Linked DNA regions of Homo sapiens: region 1 is linked to region 2. The links come from fine-mapping of genetic effects on gene expression. A gene starts in region 2. The other region holds a variant in brackets. All regions are shown on one strand. Distances are between the middles of the regions.

Region 1 (2,900 bases), 150 kb before region 2:
CAGAAGAGAGTGGGGGCCAATATTCAACATTCTTAAAAGAATTTTCAGCTTTCCACAGCGCGGGGGAACGGGAGGCCGCAGGATGGTCAAGCTGACGGCGGAGCTGATCGAGCAGGCGGCGCAGTACACCAGCGCGGTGCGCGACCGGGAGCTGGACCTCCGGGGGTATAAAATTCCCGTCATTGAAAATCTAGGTGCTACGTTAGACCAGTTTGATGCTATTGATTTTTCTGACAATGAGATCAGGAAACTGGATGGTTTTCCTTTGTTGAGAAGACTGAAAACGTTGTTAGTGAACAAAACAGAATATGCCGTATAGGTGAGGGACTTGATCAGGCTCTGCCCTGTCTGACAGAACTCATTCTCACCAATAATAGGCTCGTGGAACTGGGTGATCTGGACCCTCTGGCATCTCTCAAATCGCTGACTTACCTAAGTATCCTAAGAAATCCAGTAACCAATAAGAAGCATTACAGATTGTATGTGATTTATAAAGTTCCGCAAATCAGAGTACTGGATTTCCAGAAAGTGAAACTAAAGAGCGTCAGGAAGCAGAGAAAATGTTCAAGGGCAAACGGGGTGCACAGCTTGCAAAGGATATTGCCAGGAGAAGCAAAACTTTTAATCCAGGTGCTGGTTTGCCAACTGACAAAAAGAAAGGTGGGCCATCTCCAGGGGATGTAGAAGCAATCAAGAATGCTATAGCAAATGCTTCAACTCTGGCTGAAGTGGAGAGGCTGAAGGGGTTGCTGCAGTCTGGTCAGATCCCTGGCAGAGAACGCAGATTGGGGCCCACTGATGATGGTGAAGAAGAGATGGAAGAAGACACAGTCACAAACGGGTCCTGAGCAGTGAGGCAGATGTATAATAATAGGCCGTCTTGGAACAAGTCTTGCTTTTCAAACATAGTATAATAGCCTTGTTTGTGTTAGCAAAGTGGAATCTATCAGCATGGTTGAAATGCTTAAGACTGCTGCTGATAATTTTGTAATATAAGTTTTGAAATCTAAATGTCAATTTTCTACAAATTATAAAAATAAACTCCACTCACTGTGCTACCAAAAAAAGAAAAAGAAAAGAATTTTCAACCCAGAATTTCATATCCAGCCAAACTAAGCTTCATAAGTGAAGGAGAAATAAAATACTTTACAGACAAGCCAATGCTGAGAGATTTTGTCACCACCAGGCCTGTGCTAAAAGAGATCCTGAAGGAAGCACTAAACATGGAAAGGAAAAACCAGTACCAGCCACTGCAAAAACATGCCAAAATGTAAAGACCATCAAGGCTAGGAAGAAACTGCAGCAACTAACAAGCAAAATAACCAGCTAACATCATAATGACAGGACCAAATACACA[C/T]ATAACAATATTAACTTTAAGTGTAAATGGGCTAAATGCTCCAATTAAAAGACACAGACTGGCAAATTGGATAAAGAGTCAAGGCCCATCAGTGTGCTGTATTCAGGAAACCCATCTCATGTGCAGAGACACACATAGGCTCAAAATAAAGGGATGGAGGAAGATCTACCAAGCAAATGGAAAATAAAAAAAGGCAGGGGTTGCAATCCTAGTCCCTGATAAAACAGACTTTAAACCAACAAAGATCAAAAGAGGCAAAGAAGGCCCATTACATAATGGTAAAGGGATCAATTTAACAAGAAGAGCTAACTATCCTAAATATATATGCACCCAATACAGGAGCACCCAGATTCATAAAGCAAGTCCTTAGTGACTACAAAGAGACTTAGACTCCCACACAATAATCATGGGAGACTTTAACACCCCACTGTCAACATTAGACAGATCAATAAGAGAGAAAATTAACAAGGATACCCAGGAATTGAACTCAGCTCTGCACCAAGCAGACCTAATAGACATCTACAGAACTCTCCACCTCAAATCAATAGAATATACATTTTTTTCAGCACCACACCACACCTATTCCAAAATTGACCACATAGTTGGAAGTAAAGCACTCCTCAGCAAATGTAAAAGAACAGAAATTATAACAAACTGTCTCTCAGACCACAGTGCAATCAAACTAGAACTCAGGACTAAGAAACCCACTCAAAATCGCTCAACTACATGGAAACTGAACAACCTGCTCCTGAATGACTACTGGGTACATAACGAAATGAAGGCAGAAATAAAGATGTTCTTTGAAACCAACGAGAACAAAGACACAACATACCAGAATCTCTGGGACACATTCAAAGCAGTGTGGAGGGAAATTTATAGCACTAAATGCCCACAAGAGAAAGCAGGAAAGATCCAAAATTGACACCCTAACATCACAATTAAAAGAACTAGAAAAGCAAGAGCAAACACATTCAAAAGCTAGCAGAAGGCAAGAAATAACTAAAATCAGAGCAGAACTGAAGGAAATAGAGACACAAAAAACCCTTCAAAAAATTAATGAATCCAGGAGCTGGTTTTTTGAAAAGATCAACAAAATTGATAGACCGCTAGCAAGACTAATAAAGAAGAAAAGAGAGAAGAATCAGACCCAATAAAAAATGATAAAGGGGATATCACCACCGATCCCACAGAAATTCAAACTACCATCAGAGAATACTACAAACACCTCTATGCAAATAAACTAGAAAATCTAGAAGAAATGGATAAATTCCTCTACACATACACCCTCCCAAGACTAAACCAGGAAGAAGTTGAATCTCTGAATAGACCAATAACAGGCTCTGAAATTGTGGCAATAATCAATAGCTTACCAACCAAAAAAAGTCCAGGACCAGATGGATTCACAGCCGAATTCTGCCAGAGGTACAAGGAGGAGCTGGTACCCTTCCTTCTGAAACTATTCCAATCAATAGAAAAAGAGAGAATCCTCCCTAACTCATTTTATGAGGCCAGCATCATCCTGATACCAAAGCCTGGCAGAGAC
Region 2 (2,900 bases):
GGGAGAATGCTGGGGAAGGCCCTGCGTGGAGGCCTGCAATGTGTTGGAATAAGAGAGAGTTGATACCAAGGAAACCTCAAGGGTTAAGTGGGGAGGAGCCATCAGAGGAGTCCCCGGTTCAAGGCTGAGCTCACACCCACCCTAAAACCCCAAGTGAACGCTAAGAAGAACCTAATGAGGCCCTCCCTTGAGCTGGATCTGTGTCCCCAACTCTTCTCCCACCTTCTCACAGTGGTCTGAGTCGTAGCTGAGGCCCAGGCCACAGTCATCAGTGATCTCAGACAGATCTTCGTCGTCAAATTCTTCCAGGCTTATGTCCTGGGGAGGCCTGGAAAGGAGACCAGGGTCAGAGAGCCACCAACCCTGGACTCCCTGCCTGGCAACTGGCCCTGAGGAGGGGCAGAGGGAGGCGTCAGCTCCTACACCCAGTGGTTTCCACAGCCCCCAGCTCTCGGAACACATCCTGCCATCATCTTGACCCCCAAGCTCTGCTCGCCTGTGGATCCCCTCCCCCATCTGAGCCAGGCCTGCCCGGAGGAGCCAACCCTGCCCCCACCCCTCCCACCCCGCCTCCCTGGAGAGCCAGCAGCCTCTCCTCCCTCCACTCGCAGCTCCAGGCCCCTGGGGTCAGGGTCTTGCAGAGCAGGGGAGGGGGAGCTGCAACGCGGCAGCGGCAGATGGGGAGGGGTCGCTCCTGCTCTGGGAAGAGAGTCTGGCCTGTTTGTCTCCCCCTCTCCGGCGGAGTGAGGCCTAAACCCAGAGGCCCAGCGTCCTCCCAACCCCAGTCCCTTCCCGCAGGGCTCCGGGCTTGATTTCCACTCTCTCCCGGCCGGGCCCTATCGGCCAGGTCTGGCGTCCACTGAAAGAGGCCAAGGCCACCGGGACACGCCGCGCCGGGAGGGTGTGCCCGCATCCCGCCCGCATCCTCCCCCGCAGAGGGTCGGCCCAGGGCCTCCACCCTTGACAGGTCAGCCGTCCAGGCCGGGCGCGGCTCAGAATCCCGGCGGGGCCCGGGGGTCACTGAGGCTGGGGACGCGCGGTGAAGATGGAGGGAGTGGGAGCGGGGTGGGGGTGGGGCGCCCGAGCCGAGGCTCAGGGACCGCAGGGGGCCGGGGCCGGGTCCGCGCCGGCGGCGGGGCTGGGGCGGCGGGGACGGGGGTCCGGGCCGGGTCGGGGTCGGGGGGGTGCGCAGGGAGCGGAGGGTCCGCCCGGCCCGGGCGCCGAGGGGGGTACCTGCAGCCCGGCGGCGACAGCGAGTGGAAGGTGGAGAGAGAAAACATCTCCGCGCGATCCGCCATCTTCTCCGGGAGAGGCCCGCGACTGCGGCGGGGGGTGCGGGAGCCTCGCCGCGCCCCGCGCCGGCGCTCGGCCCGCCCCGCTCACCTCGTGACACGCCCTGCGGCGTCCGCCCCGCGCACCTCGCCCGGACTCCGCGGCGGCGCGGGGAGGGCGGCGGGGGAGGCGGGGGAGGGACGCGGCCGGGGACGCTGGTTGGAGGAGAGGCGGCGGCTTCACTGCCGGGCGCTGGTTGGGGAAGGGCCGGGCGTGCGATGAGGATTTTTCCCGGGGAGGGGCGGGAGGGAAGGGGCGGGCGGGTGGGCGTCGGGCCCCGCCCTGGAGGACCCGCGCGGGGCGGGAGGCCGAGGAGGCAGCGCCGGGGTCCGCGGGCCTCGGGTTCGCCGTGGGCTGTTTCCTCTGGGCGAGAGGCCGGGGCGGCCCCGGGAGCTGCGCCGCCGCGCCCAGGATCCCCCCAGGAACCCTAACCCGGGTGCGGCCCGGAGCGGGGTGGCGGGCGAGGCGGGAGGCGCGGGAGGAGCTGTCCGCCGTCGGGTGCTGATCGGAGCTGTCCCCACGGGGTGCTGACCGGGGCTGCACGGGGACGTCTGCACGAGGGTCGCCGAGCAGGGCTGGATTCAGAATCGAGCACAAGGTACTCAGAGGATGCTGGCTGGGGCTAAAAGTGGACTTTGAGCACTCAGTAGAGACTGCACAGCCGGACGGACGTACCGACGGGCACTGGGAGAAGTTAGCACCCACGGAGGCGACATGCGTCCCACTGGAAACACTTTTTCTTGGGCACCGTGTTGCTGGGCCCTGTGTAGGGAACTGACCCGCTCTGGCTTGGGATGGAGCCCTGTGGGGAGGGCCATGGTTGAAGCTGAGCTCGAGACGGTGGCTGTGGGAGGAGGCGGGAGATCAGGGTTGAGGGCGCAGAACTAGGGAGAGACTGCAGGACACTTTTTTTCTTTCTAAAATAGAGACCGGTGGCTGGGCGCGGTGGCTCACGCCTGCAATCCCACCACTTTGAGAGGCCAAGGCGGGTGGATCACGACGTCAAGAGATCGAGACCAGAGACCATCCTGGCCAACATGGTGAAACCCCGTCTTTACTAAAAATACAAAAAAATTAGCCGGGCGTGGTGGCGGGCGCCTGTAGTCCCGGCGACTTGGGAGGCTGAGCCAGGAGAATCATTTGAACCCGGGAAGCGGAGGTTGCAGTGAGACGAGATTGCGCCACTGCACTCCAGCCTGGCAAGAGCAAGACTCCGTCTCAAAAAAAAAAAAAGAGAGAGAGAGAGACCGGCTCTCTCTGTATTGCCCAGGTTGGTCTCAAACTCCTGGGCTCAGCTATCCTCTGGCCTCAGCCTCCCAAAGTGCTGGGATTACAGGTGTGAACCACAGCACCTGGCTAAATATTGGCTAAAGAAGGAGGCTGGCATTTCAACAAAAGCGCAATCCCTTTTCCCCCTTGATGAAAGTTATGTGCCCTAAGATTTCTTTATGTCTTAGTTCTGCGGAAAATTCTTTTTTTTTTTTTTTTTTTTTTTTTTTTTTTTTTTTTTGAGACAGAACTTGCTCTGTTGCCCAGGCTGGAGTGTAGTGGCACGATCTCAGCTCACT

Evidence for each region. PIP is the estimated chance that this variant, and not a neighbour inherited with it, causes the effect.
Region 1: its variant is fine-mapped to the expression of MAPK8IP2 in tibial nerve (GTEx, PIP 0.95).

What each region holds. Positions count from the first base shown.
Region 1 is chr22:50,752,616-50,755,515 of GRCh38, reverse strand. It overlaps the pseudogene SNRPA1P2. Among named protein-coding and RNA genes, the nearest start is that of ACR, 16 kb to the right of the region's middle. The variant C/T (reference allele first, on the strand shown) is at 1,358.
Region 2 is chr22:50,599,217-50,602,116 of GRCh38, reverse strand. It overlaps MAPK8IP2 (mitogen-activated protein kinase 8 interacting protein 2), which reads right to left and starts at 1,324. Exons shown (of 12, transcript NM_012324.6): 1 at 1,234-1,324; 2 at 223-328. The coding sequence starts at 1,298. RefSeq lists an enhancer at 445-945 and a silencer at 1,735-1,914.